6 linked regions of the Homo sapiens genome follow. The protein of the gene in region 6 interacts with the protein of the main gene of each other region in a biochemical or structural test. Each region holds a gene or a part of one and is shown on either strand. Other genes may lie near its edges.

What was found.
Region 1: the proteins of EPS15 (region 6) and UBQLN3 interact in a test that uses a peptide from one of them, tested with the Homo sapiens proteins (one large-scale study listed by BioGRID and IntAct).
Region 2: the proteins of EPS15 (region 6) and CDC40 interact in a test that uses a peptide from one of them, tested with the Homo sapiens proteins (one large-scale study listed by BioGRID and IntAct).
Region 3: the proteins of EPS15 (region 6) and DRAM1 interact in a test that uses a peptide from one of them, tested with the Homo sapiens proteins (one large-scale study listed by BioGRID and IntAct).
Region 4: the proteins of EPS15 (region 6) and MTPAP interact in a surface display test, tested with the Homo sapiens proteins (one large-scale study listed by IntAct).
Region 5: the proteins of EPS15 (region 6) and AGFG1 form a complex in vitro, tested with the Homo sapiens proteins (one study listed by BioGRID).

The regions. Positions count from the first base shown.
Region 1 is NC_000011.10:5,507,158-5,511,084, reverse strand, and holds UBQLN3 (ubiquilin-3), read left to right. Parts: upstream 1-1,127; 5' UTR 1,128-1,211; intron 1,212-1,457; exon of another isoform or gene 1,458-1,490; 5' UTR 1,491-1,526; coding exon 1,527-3,494; 3' UTR 3,495-3,785; downstream 3,786-3,927.
Region 2 is NC_000006.12:110,183,427-110,186,926, reverse strand, and holds part of CDC40 (pre-mRNA-processing factor 17), read right to left. Parts: intron 1-3,500. UniProt on the Homo sapiens protein: Required for pre-mRNA splicing as component of the activated spliceosome. Plays an important role in embryonic brain development; this function does not require proline isomerization.
Region 3 is NC_000012.12:101,898,080-101,901,579, reverse strand, and holds part of DRAM1 (DNA damage-regulated autophagy modulator protein 1), read right to left. Parts: intron 290-3,500; coding exon 147-289; intron 1-146. UniProt on the Homo sapiens protein: Lysosomal modulator of autophagy that plays a central role in p53/TP53-mediated apoptosis. Not involved in p73/TP73-mediated autophagy.
Region 4 is NC_000010.11:30,339,279-30,342,778, reverse strand, and holds part of MTPAP (poly(A) RNA polymerase, mitochondrial precursor), read left to right. Parts: intron 1-1,138; coding exon 1,139-1,311; intron 1,312-2,328; coding exon 2,329-2,553; intron 2,554-3,500. UniProt on the Homo sapiens protein: Polymerase that creates the 3' poly(A) tail of mitochondrial transcripts. Can use all four nucleotides, but has higher activity with ATP and UTP (in vitro). Plays a role in replication-dependent histone mRNA degradation.
Region 5 is NC_000002.12:227,517,156-227,520,655, forward strand, and holds part of AGFG1 (arf-GAP domain and FG repeat-containing protein 1), read left to right. Parts: intron 1-2,792; coding exon 2,793-2,908; intron 2,909-3,500. UniProt on the Homo sapiens protein: Required for vesicle docking or fusion during acrosome biogenesis. May play a role in RNA trafficking or localization.
Region 6 is NC_000001.11:51,397,267-51,400,766, reverse strand, and holds part of EPS15 (epidermal growth factor receptor substrate 15), read left to right. Parts: intron 1-1,601; coding exon 1,602-1,735; intron 1,736-3,500. UniProt on the Homo sapiens protein: Involved in cell growth regulation. May be involved in the regulation of mitogenic signals and control of cell proliferation. Involved in the internalization of ligand-inducible receptors of the receptor tyrosine kinase (RTK) type, in particular EGFR.

The sequences.
Region 1 (3,927 bases), on a different chromosome or scaffold from region 6:
CAGAATATAAACATCATTACACTATTCTTAAGAAAAAAATCTAAAAAGCCTTTAACCCCACATCCCCACATAGCCGTCATCCCCTTTCTTGCATTTAAAATGCCCTAACTGGATCTACTTTTTCCCAAACCATTTGCTTTTAAACACACTCTGATTAGGCTTCCTGCCTCTACTATCCTTCCAAAGCTAGTCTCATCATGGTCTCCAATTCTTTATTTTTTCAAATCCAGTGGCCAATTCTCAATCCTCATCCTCCTGACCTAGCAGCATCATTTCACATGATTGGTTACTCTCTCCTTTTTGAAACTCTTCTTCCTTTGGCCTTTCTCTTTTCTCTCTCTTTTTTTCTACCTTACTCTTTTATTTTTTCTCCGTTTCCTTTGCCAAATTCTTCTGATCTTCCAGATTTCTAAATGTTATACAGCCACAAAACTCAGATTTTAAAATCTCTATCATTTTGCCTGTATGCACTAACTAGCTAATCTAAACCAGTCCATGATGTTAAGTACCCTTTGAATGCTAATAAACTCTGGACTTATAATATTAAACTACAATACTACATCTCCATTTGTATGTAAAATAGACATCTCAAATGTATGTAAAACTGTTTAACAACCTGCTAATTTAGACAAAGTGCTTATTCCCAATCTTTGTCTTAGTAAATATTCAATCCTTTGAGTTCCTTTGGGGATAACAATTTCTTTTAAAGTAAAAAAAAAGTTATCTCATGCTTGACTCCTCCCTTATACCCCAAATCCTATCCATCAGCGAATCAATACTTTGAAAATACGTAAAGAATTCATGGTTAATGTTGAATAAGACAGAAAACTGGGACATAGGATACCAGGAAGAAGACCCTGGACCAGGAAGTAGCTGAATGTGGGTCTGAATGGAGACAGAGAGGACTGAGAGATGTTTTATAACATTCCAATCCCAGTCTGAGCCTCCACAGAAGTCTCCACAGGAAGGCACTTGAGGTGGAGGAAGTAGAAGTGGTAAAAGATGGGAGAGCAAGAGTTCCCAGGGATCCCGAGCTCCTTAGAGAAGTCTCAAGAATCTTCTCTGTGTGAGGCTGTGACGTCAGCACTGAGGTCACAGAAGGGACCTGATAGTGCGGGTTCTGGCCCAGAAGGCCTCAGGGGTGGCTGTGTAGCAAGATGAGGGAGGTTTGGAGCCCTGCATAAAGAGAAGGACGGGACCACAGCTGACTGGTATGTACACCCCAGCTGGGCCCTTCCTTCTACCTTTGTCCCTGTATTCATCAACTACAGACCTCTTTCCCAGGGCCCTGCATTTCCCTCCCCTGATTCCAACATATCTCAATCCCGCAATCTTCCTAAAGCATCCTGCCCCAGAAACCTCATGGCCCCTTTCATGTAGACCCTGCAGATTTCCCTATCCTGATATTCAAGACCCTTTTCATACTCACCCTTCCTACTTTTGCCATTGCCTGAAAGGATGATCTTGGTCTCCAATCCCCATGCCCCTAGCTGTGTCCCCACAGATCTGGGCCTCCTGCTGCCACCATGGCCAAAGGTGGAGAAGCCCTGCCACAGGGCAGCCCAGCACCAGTCCAGGATCCCCACCTCATCAAGGTGACAGTGAAGACGCCCAAAGACAAGGAGGATTTCTCAGTTACAGACACATGCACTATCCAGCAGCTGAAGGAAGAGATATCTCAGCGCTTTAAGGCCCACCCCGATCAGCTTGTTCTAATCTTTGCTGGCAAAATCCTCAAGGATCCTGACTCACTGGCACAGTGTGGAGTGCGAGATGGCCTCACTGTCCACCTGGTCATCAAGAGGCAGCACCGTGCCATGGGCAATGAGTGCCCAGCTGCCTCTGTCCCTACCCAGGGCCCAAGTCCTGGATCACTCCCTCAGCCAAGCTCCATTTACCCAGCAGATGGGCCCCCTGCCTTTAGCTTAGGTCTCCTCACAGGCCTCAGTAGGCTGGGCTTGGCCTATCGTGGCTTCCCTGACCAGCCAAGCTCCCTGATGCGGCAGCATGTGTCTGTGCCTGAGTTTGTGACTCAGCTCATTGATGACCCCTTCATCCCGGGTCTGCTGTCCAACACAGGCCTAGTACGCCAGCTGGTTCTTGACAACCCCCATATGCAGCAGCTGATCCAGCACAACCCTGAGATTGGGCATATTCTTAACAACCCGGAAATTATGCGGCAGACACTGGAGTTTTTACGTAACCCTGCCATGATGCAGGAGATGATACGTAGCCAGGACCGGGTGCTCAGTAACTTGGAGAGCATTCCTGGTGGCTACAATGTGCTTTGCACTATGTACACAGATATTATGGACCCAATGCTTAACGCAGTCCAGGAGCAGTTTGGCGGCAATCCCTTTGCCACTGCCACTACTGATAATGCCACCACCACCACCAGCCAACCTTCAAGGATGGAGAATTGTGACCCTCTCCCCAACCCCTGGACTTCCACACATGGAGGCTCAGGTAGCAGGCAAGGAAGGCAGGATGGGGATCAGGATGCACCTGACATTAGAAATAGGTTTCCAAACTTTCTGGGTATTATAAGGCTCTATGACTATCTCCAGCAATTACACGAGAACCCCCAGTCCCTAGGAACTTATCTACAGGGGACTGCATCTGCCCTCAGCCAAAGCCAGGAACCACCACCATCAGTAAACAGAGTTCCCCCATCGTCACCCTCATCTCAGGAGCCTGGGTCAGGCCAGCCTCTCCCCGAGGAGTCAGTAGCAATCAAGGGAAGGTCCTCCTGCCCAGCTTTCCTGAGATACCCCACAGAGAACAGTACTGGACAAGGTGGAGACCAAGATGGTGCAGGGAAAAGCTCTACTGGACATAGCACAAACTTGCCTGATCTTGTCTCGGGGCTGGGAGATTCTGCCAACAGGGTTCCATTTGCTCCCTTATCTTTTTCCCCCACGGCAGCCATTCCTGGAATCCCTGAGCCTCCCTGGCTGCCATCCCCGGCTTATCCAAGATCTCTGAGGCCAGATGGCATGAATCCAGCTCCACAGTTACAGGATGAGATACAACCACAGCTGCCACTGCTGATGCACCTTCAGGCAGCCATGGCAAACCCCCGTGCCCTGCAAGCCCTGCGGCAGATTGAGCAGGGTCTACAGGTCCTAGCTACTGAAGCACCTCGCCTCCTACTCTGGTTCATGCCTTGCCTAGCAGGGACGGGTAGTGTGGCAGGAGGTATAGAGTCTAGAGAAGATCCCCTTATGTCTGAGGATCCTCTCCCAAATCCACCTCCTGAGGTGTTCCCAGCACTGGACTCTGCAGAGCTGGGCTTCCTTTCCCCTCCCTTTCTCCATATGCTGCAAGATTTAGTTAGTACAAATCCCCAGCAGCTGCAGCCTGAGGCTCACTTTCAGGTGCAGCTGGAGCAACTGCGGTCCATGGGCTTTCTGAATCGTGAAGCCAATCTTCAGGCCCTCATTGCTACGGGGGGCGACGTGGATGCTGCTGTGGAGAAGCTGAGACAGTCGTAGGAGCCTTATTCATTCAAACCATACGTTTTCCTCTGTGCCTTTTTCCCATATCCTAGTTCCCTAGCTCTCCCATTTTTGAATACAGCTGCATTATAAACCAAATTTACTATGAAGTCCTTTGCTGTGGAGGCAATGTTGTTCCAGAGTCAACGAGGAAGACTAATGGCCAAAACATAGTGGAGGTGCTGTGTGTGAGTCAACCACTTGTACCACTATACCACTGGGGGGCCCCAGTCTAAGCTCTGCTTATGCCTATCTTGAGATGCAATTACACCCAATTTCCAATGTGAACTCTTGCCTGAGTCTCATTCATGTGGGCTATGAGAAAAAGGATGGATATGGGAGAAGAAGTAGTGATAAGGGCTGTCTCTACATGGATGGAAGGACTTGGAGGGAAACTAAAAGGTCTGAAGTTAGAAGACTCACAGGTATG
Region 2 (3,500 bases), on a different chromosome or scaffold from region 6:
TTGGCGTTCCAGAAGAGGAGAATGGGACTAAAATAATATGTGAAGTGATAAGAACTGACAACTGCTAAGAAATGTCCAAAGGTCCACATTCCAAACCAATTGATCCACAATTAAAGAAATCCAACAAATTCTGAACAGAAAAAATAAAAAGAAATCTACACATGTGTATCCTATAATAAAACTAAAGAATGAAACCATATCTCAAAAAAATGGGGTGCGGGTCTTAAAAGGTGTCAAAAGAAAAAAGAAAATCACTTTCAAAGGGAAACAGCTACACCAACAGCTGATTTATCAGTAACAATGAAAATCAGAAGACAGTAGAATATCTTAAAAGTGCTGAGAGAAAACTGCCAGCTAAGGAAACAACCCAGTGAAAATATCCTTCGAGAAATACAGTTAAATGAAAGCATTTTATGTATTTATTTATTTATTTATTTATTTATGAGACAGGGTCTTACTCTGTCTCCCAGGCTGGAGTGCAGTGGCGTGATTCTGGCTCACTGCAACCTCTGCCTCTTTGGCTCCAGCGATCCCCCTACCTTAGCCTCCCAAGTAGCTGGGAAGCACACACCAACACACCCAGCTAATTTTTGTATTTTTTCTAGAGACAGGGTCTCTCCATGTTGCTCTGGAACTCCTGGGCTCAGGGGATCTGCCCACCTCGCCCAGCCAAAACTTTTTAAAAGACAAACTAAAACTGAAAGCATTTGCCACCAGTCAATCCTCACTAAAGGACATTCTAAAGACAGAAAGTGGTATCTTGCATATGAGATGTAAGAATCATCATCATTCACCATCATCTTGTGGAGGATGTGTGTGTATATGTAAGTGCATGTATTATACCAGACAACAACAGCTAAAGTAGGAGTACAGGGGATGTGAATAAAATTCAAGGGTTCTAAGGTTCTCGCATTGCTCAGTAGAAGGTGAAAGTACTGATCGAATGTGCTGTGCTTTCTAGGGGTAACCACTTAAAGAATAGAAACTGACTGCATGACTTAAAACAAGCACAGGGAGATAATGTAATGATTTTAAAAATCCAAAAGAATGGATGCCTAGCATACTAACTTTCTGCCTTTCTTTTTTTCTGTGATATGTGTTTATGACTATACTTTTAAAAAAATTGCCATGGCTGCACCTCACATGTTCTGATGTATAGTTGCTTAGAAGTGCAATTTCACAATTTTCAAATACGGAAATTTTATAGCTATCTTTTTGTGGTTAGTTTCTAGCTTAGGTGCACTGTGGTCAGAGAATACAGTAACAAGATTTTAAATCTGTTGAGACTAATTTTATGTTCCAGTTCAGGGGTGGCTAACTACAGTGTGTGGGCCAAATCCAGGCCACGGTCTGCTTTTTTGTACCAACAAGCTAAGGATGGTATTTGTATCTTTAAAGGGTTAAGAAAAAAAGATCCAGCACTTTGGGAGGCCGAGGCGGGCGGATCACGAGGTCAGGAGATCGAGACCATCCCGGCTAAAACGGTGAAACCCCGTCTCTACTAAAAATACAAAAAATTAGCCGGGCGTAGTGGCGGGCGCCTGTAGTCCCAGCTACTTGGGAGGCTGAGGCAGGAGAATGGCGTGAACCCGGGAGGCGGAGCTTGCAGTGAGCCGAGATCCCGCCACTGCACTCCAGCCTGGGCGACAGAGCGAGACTCCGTCTCCAAAAAAAAAAAAAAAAAAGAAAAAAAGATGAAGAAAAAGAAAGGGTGAAAGAGAGAAAGAAAGAAGTGACAGAAACTACATGGGGCCAGCACAGCCTGAAATATTTACTGTCTGGCCCTTTACTGAAGTTTGCCAATCCCTGGTCTAGCACACGGTCATTTAAAAAATGTTTCATTACGTTTCAATGTTTCAAAATGTTTCCAGTGCCTGAAAACAACATTCTGTGTTGCTAAGTGCCATATTCCCTAAGACCTTTAGATGCAGTTTACTAATTTTGTTGTTCACATATTCTGTATCATTACTGATATGTTTTTACTTGTTCTATCAATTATTGAGAGATATAAAAATCTCTCACTGTAATTGTATATTTGTCCATTTCTCTTTGTAGTTCTGTCAATTTTTGCTGAAATATTTTGAGCTTACATTGTTTTATATCTCTTTGTGAACTGAACCTTCTATCATGATGAAGTGACTCTTTTGTCTCCAGTAATGCTTTCTGCTTTAAAGTCTATTTTTATTGATGTTAACACAAACAGTGCTAGCTTTTTCTTGGTTAAAATTTGCCTGGTACATCCTTTTTATTTTTATTTTAGATCTTCCTGGAGGCGGTAGTAAGCATGGCAAGGCAAGAACAATAAATAAAAGAAATAATGATTAAAAGAAAGAAAAAATACTGTCATATTTGCAGCTGATATGGCTATGTAAGTAGTAGAAAGTACTTACATAGTAGTTAAGTTAGAAAGTTAAATAAATGAAAAATACAATACTGTTTATTAACAGCATAAAAATAAGATCCACCGAGAAATACCTCCAATAAAACTGTACAAGATTTTGATACAGAGACAATTACAAACTTTGGGAGAAAAAAAAAAACAAAACTAAAAAAAGGCCTAAACAAATGAACGGACATAACATTATCTCCAAGTTGACCTATGACTCAATGTACTCCCAAACAAAATCCCAACTGGGTATTAGCAGAACTTTCCAACTTAATTCTAAACTGTATATAGAATTACAGGGCCAAGAAGAGCCAACAAAAAAGGGCAAGGGAACTGCCCTATCACCTATCAAGCCATATTATTAAGAATGTTCGCACTATAGACAAAAGTTAATTTCATATGGATTAATGACTTAAATGTGAAAAGCTTTCAAGAGATAATACAAGAGAATATTTTCATGACTATGAGTTAAGGATTTCTCAAACAAGCAACAGGAACCCGATACATAAAGGAATAATTTGACAAGCACAGACTACATAAATAATTGTTTGTAAACAACAGGGAAAAGTGAGAAGACAAGTCACAAAAGAAAAAAAATTTGCAACACACACAATTGACAAAGGATAGTATCCAGAATATGTAAAGGTCTTCTAAAAATCAAAAGGAAATGACAACCCAATAGTTGCTTCCAAAGAAAAAAAAATTAAATCACCAATAACATATTAAAAGATACTCAACTGCAGGAAACAGCTCGGAAAAAACATAGATTAAAAACGCTGCAAAAATGTATTCTCTGCCAAAATGCTTGCTATTAATCATAATACAATTAGTCAACTACAGATGAATATATTTGCATGCTTCACATCTCCCTTGGTCATTTTCCAATTTTCCAATCATTTGCAATCATTATATTTACTATGTGTAAGTTTGTTTTCCCTTCATATAAACAAGTGTTGGTTCATAAACCAACAATGAGCAATGCCCTCTACGCTCTCATAGAACCCAGACCACTGGGTGGACTAGCCCCAGCTCTACCTCTAATGGACTTCTGGTACCTTACGCAGCCTTTCCTCCTGGGTTCCCTTATTTATTCGTGATTGCACTAAGTGAGCTC
Region 3 (3,500 bases), on a different chromosome or scaffold from region 6:
CTAAAAAGCAAACTAACCCACTTATTGTAAACTCATCAAGCATTTAATGGCTATAATGGCATAAGTGTGCCTCTTGCATTTCTGCTGCTCTCTTCAGACACATACACTCCACCACTCCTCATAACTGAAAAAGCTCCAGATTATACCTGAAAATTGGCGACAATGCCCATTCCGAAACATCCCACCAATCCAAGCACTAAAGACACCAAGTTAAAAACAGGAGTGCTGAAATAGCAGGTTTGATTTTGCTTCTGTACTATTTTGTATCTTGTATACATCGTGGCTGCACCTGAAAAAGAAGAGAACTTTGATGAATGTTCATAATTTGATGTCTTTAGGATGAAAAACAGGAGCAGCTTTGTATCACTTTTTAAAAATGTACTGATTGCAAGTCTCCCCACTTTCCCACCCCTGTCCCTCCTGACTCCATCTTACTCTCTCCCCAGCATGTACAGACACACACACACACACACACACACACACACACACACACACACACACCCCTTGGCTGTTGTCCTTTTCATGTAAATGCTATTATAGTACATGTATTACTCTGTGACTTGCTTTTTCCATTTAACAGTGTACCATGGAGATCTTTTCAAGCAAGTACAAACAGATCTACTTCATTGTTTTCAGGGATCTTATCATGGTCTGTGGTATGAGATACTATATTTATTCCTCATTCTCCTAAGAATGAATTTCTACATTGTTTCCATGTTTTTCCTGCTACAAACAACACGCCATGAATATCCTTGTATATAAATCTTTGGGTTTCTGAAAGACCAGTTCCTAGAAGTAATATTACTGGGTCAAAAAACCATGCACAATTAGAAACACCTCCAAATTGCTCCAGCCCGTTGACGATTTAGACTCCCACCAGCAGAATTTGCGAGCAATTGTGTATGCCCTTGCCTTTTTAATTCTGTCAGTCTAATAAATGAAAATTCAACCTGTTGGGTTAGTTTGCATTTCTCTGATCATTAGCAAGATTTAGCAACTTTCAGTATATCTACTGGTCATTTGCATTTCTTCTTCTGAGAAATGCATGTTTACAATTTTCTTTTTATTCTTCTCTTGGGCTTGTCGATATCTAATTTGTAGTTACTTTTTACACATTATGTCCATTAGTCTATTATCTGCTATAAATATTACAAATTTTCTTCTGCTCTGCTATTTGTCTTTTAACATTGTATCTTGTATCTTACATCATTTGAAAGTTTTAATTTTTAATCTACTCATATCTATCAATTCTTCTGCGTTTTGTGTTTCTATTCCAAGGTTTAAAAAATATTCTCCTGTAATTTAATTATTGCATAGTTTTGCTTTTCATGTCTATTAAATTGCAATTGGTTTTTGTGTATGATGTGAGGAGGATAGTAAAGGTATGTTTTTCCAAATAGCTAGTCAATTAACCAAATACCATTTGTTGTAATTTGGCAATAAAATGTAGCCTCCATGAGAGCAGGGCTCTTGTCTGTTTTGTTGGCTGTTGTAAACTCAACACTAAGTCATAAACAAGCACAAACCCTATCATATAGTACATACTTAGTAAATGTTGAATAAATAAATAGCTACCATAATTTTAGATACATATTCCCTTTAACTCAGCAAATTTATCTTATAGAAAAACTCACACAAATATGCAAAGATATATTTAAAAGATGTTCACTTCAACATTAGAATTACAAAATACCAGAAATAGCCTAAATGTTGGACAATAGGGAACTGATTAAATAAATGATAATACATCCTTGTGAAAGATATCATGCATGTGTGGAAAGGATAAAGTAGATGTGTATATATTTACATAGTATGACGGCCATAATCTATTCCTGAATTTTTAAAAAGCAGGCTAAAAACTAATAACTTATCATAAATCTTTTTTTTTTTTTTTTTTTGTGGAGACAGGGACTTGCTCTGTCACCTGGGTGGGAGTGCAGCGGCACAGTCATGGTTCACTGCAGCCTTGACCTCCTGGGCTCAGGCAATTCTTCCACTTTATCCTTCCAAGTAGCTGGAACTACAGGCACACATCACCACACCCAGCTAACTTCTTTTTTCTTTCTTTCTTTCTTTTTTAACTTTTTGTAGAGATGAGATCTCACTACATTGCCCAGGCTGGTCTTGAACTCCTGGGCTCAACAGATCCTCCTGCTTCAGCCTCCCAAAATGCTAGAATTACAGGCATGAGCTCACATAGACTATTTCAAATGAATATATTTGTCAGTTTCTGCTTTATTCAGAAGCAAAAGCCGTATTTATCACTTGCTGTGATAAAATAATCTCTCTGTTTTCCAAGTCTGGATTCTTGGCAAGGATGGTGTAAGAGGGCACTGGGATTGACTGACTCCATATTGCTACTTCCCCTTGCTCACCTCCAAAACTTTAGGAGGACTACAAATGGTGATGCGGTGAAACTTTCCTGCTACCAAGTAGGATGAACAAATTCCAAAATGCCAAGTCACTAAGTAGGGTCAGCATCACTGTCCCTTCTCACACTGTACCAGTAGAGAGGAACAGAAAGCGTTGGTTACAAGATAGGCCCTTGGCAAACACTTGATTGTTTGGGGGGAGATTATAGAAGGACTAAGAGAAAATGCCCCACATCTGATATCTATATACTTGAATCACCTTATAGAAGACTGAGCTTTACATTAATTATACAATAGTTGTAATTAATATGCATTACATTAATTGGCTTATGACAAGGTTGCACCCTATCATCTGCATCTTAGGTACATCTGAGGAACTGAAAAGAAAAATCATACTATTCCTTGCTCCACCTGTCCCCTTTCTCTAACAGGTAAGATAATGCCTTTGTCAATGGTCCTCAAACTTTAGTGAGAAACCAAGTCCCCTAGAGTGCTTGTTTACAACACATCTTCAGGAACCCACACTCCCAAAGGTTCTGGTTGAGTAGCATGGCCCAGGAACCTGCATTTTACGAGAACTCCAGGTGACTTTTCATCAGCTTGCCTTCAGAATACACTTTGAGAAACTTAGCTTACGCATTGGGTGTCTTTGGCTTACATAAGTGTCTTGACCATAAATCAACACTTTTAAAAACTAAATTGCACTTAAAATCCGTTCCAGAAGTTTGGTATTTAAAACCACCTACAGCAAATCCTGTTACAAATTACTAATTAAAGTATAGTTCTCTAATAAAGCCATAATTTTTTATATCTTTTAACTTCAGTTTCTCAAAATAGGACAAAAATCTAGCTGCAAAGATTGTGCTTTTAAAAAAATTATACACAAGGCCGTGTGCAGTGGCTCACACCTATAAGTTCAGCACTTTGAGAGGCCAAGGCAGGTGGATCACTGAAGCCCGGGAGCTCAAGGCCAGCCTGGCAACATGGTGAAACCCCATCTCTACAAAAAACTACAAAAAATTAGCTGGGCGTGGTGGTGTGCACCTGTAGTACCAGCTACTCCGGAGGCTGAGGTGGGAGGACTGCTTGAGCCTGGCAGGTTGAGGCTGCAGTGAGCCGTGATCACGC
Region 4 (3,500 bases), on a different chromosome or scaffold from region 6:
TAGTTGGTAACTCACTGTTAATTGTTTGAGCCAGATCAAGACCCTTGAGAAAGAAAAATGCCTTAATAGCTTATGTCAAAACACCGAATTTCCAAACTCATTGTCTCATTACACTCAGGCTTGTAATAATTTCTTTTAGGCTTTGGAATGTTACAATTTGCACAATTTTGTGTGTGCATATTTGTACAAGTATTAAATAAGTGATTTTAGTTTCCTGGTTTTTTTTTTTTTTTTTGTGGAACTCCGTTTTCAGCACTTTGCATCAAGCATAGTAAATCAAAACAGAGAAAGTGGGCAGTTTTAATAGTAGTCATGGGAGAGTAGTCAAACGAACACTGAAAGTGCAGTAATTCCACCTCATCCATGTTTTCACTGTCCACAGTTTCGGTTCCTCACAGTCAACTGTGGTCCACAAATAGGTGAGCACAGTACAATATGATATTTTGAGAGAGAGAGAGACCACATTCATATAACTTTTATTACAGTATATTAGAATTGTTCTATTTCATTATTAGTTGTTGTTAATCTCTGTCTCTTTTTTTTGAGACAGAGTCTCGCTCTGTTGCCCAGGATGGAGTGCAGTGGTGCAATCTCAGCTCACTGCAACGTCTGCCACCTGGTTTCAAGTGATTCTCCTGTTTCAGCCTCCCAAGTAGCTGGGACTACAGGCGCGCGCCACCATGCCTGGCTAATTTTTGTATTTTTAGTACAGATGAGGTTTCACCATGGTCAGGCTGATCTCGAACTCCTGGCCTCAGGTGATCCACCCACCTCAGCCTCCCAAAGTTCTGGTATTACAGGCATGAGCCACCAAGCCCGGCCCGTTGTTATTAATCTCTTACTGTGCCTAATTTATAAATTAAGCCTTATCATAGCAATGTATGTGTAGGATAAAACATTGTATATATAGGGCTTGGTAATATCTGAGGTTTTAAGCATTTACAGGCATCTTGGATCATAACCCCTGTGGGTAATGGGGAGACTACTGTAGTATAGTTTAACCCTTATAAAGGAAGAGAAAAAATAGATTAGGTGAAGTTGGTTTTAGTCATATATGAAGTCTTTAAACACCTTATCAAAATATTTTTAAAATTTTGTGTGTGTGCGTGTGGTGGAAATGTTTTTGTCTCGTTCATAGGCTTTGAAGACAAGATTCCCAAAAGGAGATTCTCTGAGATGCAAAATGAAAGACGAGAACAGGCACAGCGGACTGTTTTAATACATTGCCCAGAGAAAATCAGTGAAAACAAGTTTCTTAAATATTTATCCCAATTTGGACCTATTAATAATCATTTCTTCTATGAAAGCTTTGTAAGTATTTGAAAAACAATCTAACTTAACGTTTATGCTTTTCAAGGGTGGAGGTCTCCATTAGTTGTTTTTTGCTGTTGCTTTTTGCAATATGGTAGGTAGGTTCTCTTTGATATACTGCATCTTCTTTATCTAGATTTCTTTAATGAGTTTTGTTTTTGATATGGGATTCTTATAGCGGTATTTTAGGATTATAAGTCATTTATGACTGATTTCATTATTTGAATGCTTAATTTTATTTTTTAAGAGACGGGGTCCAACTATGTGGCCTATGCTGGAGTGCAGTGGCTGTTGGCAGGTACGATCATATTGCACTACAGCCTCGACTCCTAGGCTCGGGTGATCCTTCTGCCTCTGGAGTAGCTGGGACTACAGTCCTGCACCACCACACCCAGCTTGAATACTTTAGATAGTCTCTTTAACTTGCGGATGAAGGCCAGTGGGAGGGGATCTTTGTTTTGCCTTTGGATTTTTCTGCTTCATCATTCTTTTCAGTCTTTTCAGCTTCTCTTAACTAACATTGTTTTAAGGTTCCGTTTCTTTTTTTTTGACATGGAGTCTCACTCTGTTGCCCAGGCTGGAGTGCAGTGGCATGATCTTGGGTCATTGCAACCTCCGTCTCTTGGGTTCAAGCGATTCTCCTGCCTCAGCCTTCCAAGTAGCTGGACTTACAGACACCTGCCACCACGCCTGGCTAATTTTTGTATTTTTAGTAGAGGCGAGGTTTCACCATGTTGGCCAGGCTGGTCTTGAACTCTTGACCTCAGGTGATCTGCCCACCTCCATGTCCCAAAGTGCTGGGATTACAAGCGTGAGCCACTGCGCCCGGCCCAGTGTTCCTTTTCTTCATCTACTTAAATTGAATAAAATTAATGCTATGTTAGAATCATATCATTTGTAAATTTTAAAGACTTGATATTTTGTAGCATTATGATAATTGTTTTAATATATGAGCTAAAATAGTATGTTAGATATATCGTGAAATGTGTTCTGTTTTTTCTTATGTTTTTGGTATAGGGTCTCTATGCTGTCGTAGAATTTTGCCAAAAGGAAAGCATAGGTTCACTGCAGAATGGGACTCATACTCCAAGCACGGCCATGGAGACTGCAATTCCATTCAGATCACGTTTCTTCAATCTGAAGTTGAAAAACCAGACTTCTGAACGGTCACGCGTACGGTCAAGTAATCAGTTGCCACGTTCAAACAAGCAGCTTTTTGAATTACTTTGTTATGCAGAAAGTGTAAGTTTTTAGGTGTACCTCAACTTTTAGAACTATGTATTTTTTTATGAACAATAAAGATTCCTGTAAAATGTTCAAGCTACATTATTGTTTAATGGGTATAGATCTTCAGTTTTACAAGGTGAAAAGAGTTACGGAGATGAATCGTGGTGGTGGATGCATAATGAGATGAAGGAAAGTTTTTTTCTATTTCTAGCTTTCTAAGAATGTCGTCATGCTCAACACATTGAGTAGATGTTGAGTTTTGACATTTGAGATGGTATTGATGACTGGCATATGGTCTTGAGATTGTATATGGTTCCTAATGTCTTTTTCTTTCCCCTCCTAATGTCTTAACGTAGTGAATTGTAGATTCACTGTAGATTTCCTCATGTCAAGTCATTCTTGCATTCACAGAATAAACCCTACTTAGTCAAGGTGTATTTACAAAAATGCATTATTACATTTGTCGTGCTAATATTTTTATTACAATTTTAATATCTCTATAAATAAATGGGATTGCTTTTAAAAATTCAAACTACAGGATATGTTGAATGAAAAGTGATAGTAATCCTTGTCTGCTCCTTCCCCGCCATGCCCCATTTGTACTTACAGGTAACCACATTCTTCTGAAGTTTTCGGCCTTTTGAACAGTTTAGGTTTTCTTTCTCTTTCCAGCATAATGACATAAAATTGTACATGGTTTTCTGTCAATTTTAAAATGTCTTCTTTCTGATTCTCTCTCTCTTTTTTTTTTTTTTTTTTTGAGATGGAGTCTCGCTCTTGCCCAGGCTGGAGTGCAGTGGCATGATCTTGGCTTACTGCAACTGCTCCCCGATTCAAGCAATTCTCATGCCTCAGCTGCCCAAGTAGCTGGGACTACAGGTGTGCACCACCACACCCAGCTAACTTTTGTATTTTTAGTAGTGACGGAGTTTCGCCACTTTGGCCAGGCTGGTCTCGAACTC
Region 5 (3,500 bases), on a different chromosome or scaffold from region 6:
TTTTCATAATGGATTGTGCCTTACTCTAGTTCTCACTCGTTTTAACTGTCACTTCCTAAATGACTTTATAGTATCTGTACTGAGCCTGGAATAGGAAGGAACCACAAGAAATATATATATAGACAGACAGACACGGAGTCTCACTCTGTCATCAGGCTGGAGTGCAGTGGCGCAATCTCGGCTCACTGCAACCTCTGACTCCCGGGTTCAAGCGATTCTCCTGCTTCAGCTTCTGGAGTAGCTGGGGTTACAGGCATGCGCCACCATGCCCAGCTATTTGTTTTTTCTGTATTTTTAGTAGAGGTGGGGTTTCACCATGTTGGCCATGATGGTCTCGATCTCCTGACCTCATGATCCGCCTGCCTTGGCCTCCCATAGTGCTGGGATTACAGGCGTGAGCCACCACGCCCGACCCACAAGAAATGTTTTGAAACAGATTTGGGGACATGATAGGAAAGGAGAAGGGCAAGTCCTTTCTCCTAACCTTTCTCTTATTTCTCCCATACCCAGTTCAGTGAGCAGGTAAGATTGAGAAGTACGCTTTTCCTTCCCTGATTTCTTAAATACTTGTCAGGGTTTTTGAAACCAGATACTATGCTCTTTTCATAGTGTCGTAATTGCTTATTCTTTAGAATAATGTATTTTGGAAACTCGTGGACTTGTTTTTGATAATTTTGCTGAGGAATAGTTGATAACTTGGATATTTAAACTGATAACGTGTACATACTTAAAGTGTACAATTTGATGAGTTTTGACATTTGTATGTATCATGAAACCACTACCACAATAACAAGATAGCATATATTTTCATTGTGCAACCCTTTGTAATGAATCCACTGATCTGCTTTTCATCGCTGTAGACTGGTTTACATTAAAAATTTAAATGAATGGAAATATGCAGTATATACGTTTTGGTGGGGGGGTGCACATGTTTCTTTCAGCATAATCTTGAGGTTTATTCATGTTTCTTGTATTAATGGTTTTCTCCTTTTAATTGCTGAATAATGTTCTTCTTTGGATATTCTCCCATTTGTTTATTCACTTGTTTATGAACAATTGGGTGATTTCCAGTTTGGGGTTATTATCAGTAAAGCTGCTACAAATATTTATGTACAGTCTGAGTGTGGAAAAGTGCTTTTATTTTTCTTGAATAAATACCTAGAAGTAGAATGGCTACATCATATGCTAGGTCTATGTTTAACTCTTGAGAAACTGCCAAATGTTTTCCAAAGTGCTTACACCATTTTACATTCTAAAGAATTCCGGTTGTTCCACATTGTTACCAACACATGATGCAGTCACACTTTGTTTTCGGCTTTTCTAGTAGTATATGCATGTCTGTCTTGTGGAGTCTCAGTGTCTTTTTTTTTTTTTTTTTTTTTTTAAAGACAGAGTTTTGCTCTTGTCGCCCAGGCTGGAGTGCAATGACATGATCTTGGCTCACTGCAACCTCCCCTTCCTGGGTTCAAGCCATTCTTCTGACTCAGCCTCCTGAGTAGCTGGGATTACAGGCATGCACCACTACGCCTGGCTAATTTTTTTGTATTTTTAGTAGAGATGGGGTTTCACCATTTTGGCCAGTCTAGTCCCGAACTCCTGACCTCAGGTGATCCGCCTGCACCCGGCCTCAGTGTCATTTTAATTTGCATTTTATGCATGACTAATGATAGTGGGCTGCTGATATCTTTGGTGAAGTGTTTGTTCAGACCTTTTGCCCCCGCTTTAAACAAGTGTTGGCTGGGCATGGTGGCTCGCGCCTGTAATCCCAGCACTTTGGGAGGCTGAGGCGGGCAGATCGCTTGAGCTCATGAGTTCGAGACCAGCCTGGGCAACATGGTGAAACACCATCTCTACAAAAAATACAAAAAATTAGCCACCTGTGGTGCTGCACTCCTGTAGTCCCAGCTTACTCAGGAGGCTGAAGTGGGAGGATGGCTTGAGCCTGGGAGGCAATAAGCTGAGATTGCACCACTGCACTCCATCCTGGGTGATAGAGACAGACCTTTTCTCAAACAAACAAAAACCAAAACAAGTGTTGGGTTATCTGTCTTTTATAATTGAGTTGTAGGAATTCTTTATATATTCCAGTTTCAAGTTCTTATACATTTTACAAATACTTTTGATCAGTTGGTGTCTTGATTTTTGTACTTTTTAAGTTTTTTTGAAGAATAGTTTTTTATTTTGATGAAGTCTGCTTTATCAGTTTTTCTCTTTATAGTTCTTTTTGTGCTATTTTATTTCATTTCTCTTTTGGTTTTTCTGAAAGTTAAATATCTCAGATTCTCATTTTTTAGCTATTGGACCAAAAATGCATAGGAGACAGCTATAAAGCTAATAGTGTGTTTGCCTTATATTTGTGTTTATTGTTACAATTTTAAAGTGTTTATGATTCTAGTATTTTTGTTTGTTCTTTTTGGTTTTTTAGACTTGCTAAAGGGCCTGTGAAATAGCCATTGGTTCAGTTCCTTTGTTTTGTAAGGGAACTGAGCAGGTTACATGACTTTGCTAATGGTGAAGTTTATGATTATGCCAAGACTGAAAAGACCCCAGGTCCTCTGAAATCCCACTTCACTCTTCATTTCCCCTTTTTAATGATTTTGTTGCTAAAATTTTACTGCATACTGCAACATATTAAAAATAAATTTAGTTCCTGTTTATTAGTATCCTCATTGAAAGCATATTATTAAAATTATTATGTAGATTAGCTTCCTGAAAGAATCATAGTATCCCCTTAAAATTTCATTAAGTGAAGATGTTGAATTTAACATATATTTTTTTAATTCTTTCCAAAGGTCTGTAAACAGATTTGGCTAGGATTATTTGATGATAGATCTTCAGCAATTCCAGACTTCAGGGATCCACAAAAAGTGAAAGAGTTTCTACAAGAAAAGTATGAAAAGAAAAGATGGTGAGTGAAGAGTTTGTATGTAGAATAAAGCCTCCCCAAATCACATATTAACTATGGGTAAGGTTAGTCTGACACAATGAAGGATAAAAGACAGACAGTGAGAACTAGATAGGTATATAATTCATTATCCCTTGGCTTTTTGTTGGTTTGGTTTCTGAAAACCTTTACTTCTACTTTATCTTAACTCATCTGTTCCTGGCAGCAGGCTTTTTGTTGTAATAATTACCAGGAAAGTTAGGGATTCTTCCTTCTAATCATTCCCTATCTCTGTTAGCTTCTTTAAATATGTTTTGCCCTACAAAGCCTCCGTTCTTAAAAATCATTAATTTAGCAAGTATTTACTGAGTCATATCTTTTTTTAATTTATTGAGTTTCATCTTCTGTATACTAGGCACTATGCTAAAGCTCTGGTGTAGTAATCCATCTACTTAATTGTCTGTTGTAGCCTTTGCTCAAAATATTTTTTCTTTTGACCTAAGAAATCAGTTTACTTTCTGGTTAAGAAGGGAGCATTTACTTTTCCCTAACTAAATCTATCAGATGTTAATTTTTAAAAATTAATTCCAACAGGTTGTACATATAGCTAGTAAGC
Region 6 (3,500 bases):
TAATGAATTGTTGCTTTACTTTTACTTCTTCTTTTTTTTTTTTTTTTTTTTTTTGGTGTTTTTTGTTTTTGAGACAGGGTCTTATTCTGTCACCCAGGCTGGAATGCAGTGGTGTGATCATGGCTCACTGCAGCCTTGACTTCCTGGGCTCAAGCAATCCTCCTGCCTCAGCCTCCTGAGTACCTAGGTCTACAGGCTCATGCCAGCATACTTGACTGATTTTTTTTTATTTTTTGTAGAGACAGGGTCTCACTGTGTTGCCGAGGTTGGTCTCGAACTCCTGGGCTCAAGCAGTCCTCCTGCCTCAGCCTCCCAAAGTGCTGCGATTACAGACAGGTGTGAGCGACTGTGCCCGATAGCTTTACTTTTTTAAAAATGACATTAGTGTTTAGACTTTGGTGCTTTAAATATTTATTCTGATTCCTCCTTACTAACTAAAGGTTTGGTGAGCATAATGATCTATACTGCTTCAGGGTTTAGAATGTAATTTTGTTTTCCTAAGATTATAGCCCACACGTGTGATTAGAGGCAGAGAATCTTGAAGAATTACTAAAACATCAGGCTTTTTGAGATATTCTTTTTCTGGGAATTTTCATTAGAATAATGCAAATCTTGTTTACCATTTAGTTTTGCATCCCAAACCTGTTCTAAACTATTGGCTGTTAGCTTTGAGCTCAGAGAGAAAAATACATTTAGAAGTTTTTATTGTGTTTTCTTTAGTTACGGTAGCGTAGAATAAGGGGACTTAAAATTGGATCCCTTGAAATTATATGTTAATTTTAAAAATAAGTTTATTAGGTGGAAGGTTCTGTATCTTTTATCAAAATTGCAAAGGAGTCTGTGAAATAAAAAGTACTCAGCTTAGATTCTACAGTATTTCAAACTGTCTTTTTGGATTTTTTTTTTGAGACAGTCTTGCTCTGTTGCCCAGGCTAGAGTACAAGTAGTGCGGTCTTGACTCACTGCAACCTCCGCCTCCCATGCTCAAGCTATTATTCTCATGCCTCAGCCTCCCGAATAGCCAGGATTACGGGCGCGCACCACCACGCCTGGCTAATTTTTGTATTTTTAGTAGAGACAGGGTTTCACTGTGTTAGCCAGGCCGGTCTTAAACTCCTGAGCTCAAGTCATCCGTCTACCTCAACCTCCCAAAGTGCTGGAATTACAGGTGTGAGCCACTGCACCTGGCCCAAACTGTCTTTTTGTTTGTTTGTTTTTGAGACAGGGTCTCACTGTCACCCAGGCTGGAGTGCAGTGGCAGATCTTTGCTCACTGCAGCCTCTGCCTCACAGGTTCAAGTGAGTCTCCCACCTCAGCCTCCCGAGTAGCTGGGACTATAGGTGCGCACCACCATGCCTGGCTAATTTTTGTGTTTTTTAGTAGAGAGGAGGTTTTGACATGTTGGGCAGGCTGGTCTTGAACTCCTGACCTCAAGTGATCTGCCTGTCTCAGCCTCCCAAAGTGGTGGGAATGCAGACGTGAGCCACTGCACCTGGCCCCAGACTGTCTTTTAATTAAGGCACTGATCATACCTTCAAGTGATGGGAAATTTAGTGCAATAATTTTTTTTTGTCTCTTATATTCGTGCCTTATTTTTTTAGATCCATTTGGTGGTGATCCTTTCAAAGGTTCAGATCCATTTGCATCAGACTGTTTCTTCAGGCAATCTACTGATCCTTTTGCCACTTCAAGCACTGACCCTTTCAGTGCAGCCAACAATAGCAGTATTACATCGGTAAGTGGGAGAATTAAAAACTGTTAAGTTAAATGGATAATAAGTGTCCTAAGCAAGTTTCTTGAAATACATAGTGATGAAAGAACCCTCATTTAGATTACTTCTAATGGACCATATAAGAATTTCAGTCTCATCCCAATTCATTTAGTTTTTGGTTCAGACTGGTATTTCATAGTTTGATTACCCACTGGAATTAACTGGAATGACTGAACGGAGTCCAAAAGTGATGTTCATCTTTCAAGAGACTAAATCTTATCCTATTGAGGATACTAAAAATGATTGGAAATTTATAAGCCAATCTTACATAAAACTTTTCTGAAATGTTTGGTATATTATTGAAATAATGAAAATTAAAAGAATTTTAGAAAAATAAAATCGTTTATGTTATTTCATAGACACATCTGGAATGTTAATTCTGCAAAGTACAAATTCTCACTAAATGTCAAGCTCTCTTGAGAATGTACATACCTACAGCAATCACTGTTTAATAACCACATGCCTGATCCAGGTACTGGTGTGTGCTTTACATTCATTGTTTCTAATCTTCACATCAATTTTGCAAAGTAGGTGTTGATATCCCTATTTTAAAAATGAGGACACTGGGACTTAGAAAAATTAACATGTTTAAGGTCCTATAGCTAGTTGCTGTTTTATCTGGAGGCTTTAAAAAAATCTTCATGGCTGGGCGCGGTGGCTCACGCCTGTAATCCCAGCACTTTGGGAGGCTGAGGTGGGCGGATCACGAGGTCAGGAGATCGAGACCATCCTGGCTAACACGGTGAAAACTCGTCTCTACTAAAAATACAAAAAATTAGCCAGGCGCGGTGGTGGGTGCCTATAGTCCCAGCTACTCAGGAGGCTGAGGCAGGAGAATGGCGTGAACCCGGGAGGCGGAGCTTGCAGTGAGCCGAGATCGCGCCACTGCACTCCAGCCTGGGTGACAGAGCGAGACTCCGTCTCAAAAAAAAAAAAAAAAATCTTCATCTTGTGGATATTTAGAAATACTCAAAGGAGAATAATGTAATGAAATATTTTAACAAGCTTCCATGCATCCATTACCCAATTTCAATAGTTAGGAATGGTTTTGCAGGTTTTTGGTTTTGCTTTTTAATTTGTATTTTGAGACTTCGTTTTTGAGACCACAGTTTCATGTCTGTAGGTAAACTGAACCTATAAAGGACCAGTTAACTGAGAAGCATTTGAAGCAAAAAATTTGTCTTCTAGTACTATTAGATTAAGAATATTTCCTTTAAAATGTAATTGATTATTTTAAAGATAATAGGTTTTGTATTATTGAAAGTTGCTTCTTTTTTGTATTCAGTAAAGAGCTGCTTGGCTAAGAACTGGTGTTTTCCATTGAATAAAAACTGGACAGATACCTTCGTGACTGAATATTTTTCGTTTCCCTGGGCTGCTGGATACTCTGTTTTCCTATAGCACTTAGTTTGCAATGTGGACCCATTTGCCAAATTCTTCTAAAATTGCTGCTACTGGAATTCTTCTCCTCTCACCTTCTTATTCTAGCCTCTCATTCTCCTATCATCTAAAGAGCAAGAAAGCTAAATTAGCTCTTCTAATTTAAAAATGAATACATTCCTCTTGTCCTGTCCCCCATGAGATTTTTCTACCATTTGTTTTACTGACTTTTATTCCCAGTTTTCTAAAGGAATATTGTCCTTGCTTTACAGCTTGTAATTTCACCATTCAAAACAAAAAACCAGATTGGCAATATAATAATAGCTGCAGTTTATCTAATTTCCTCTGT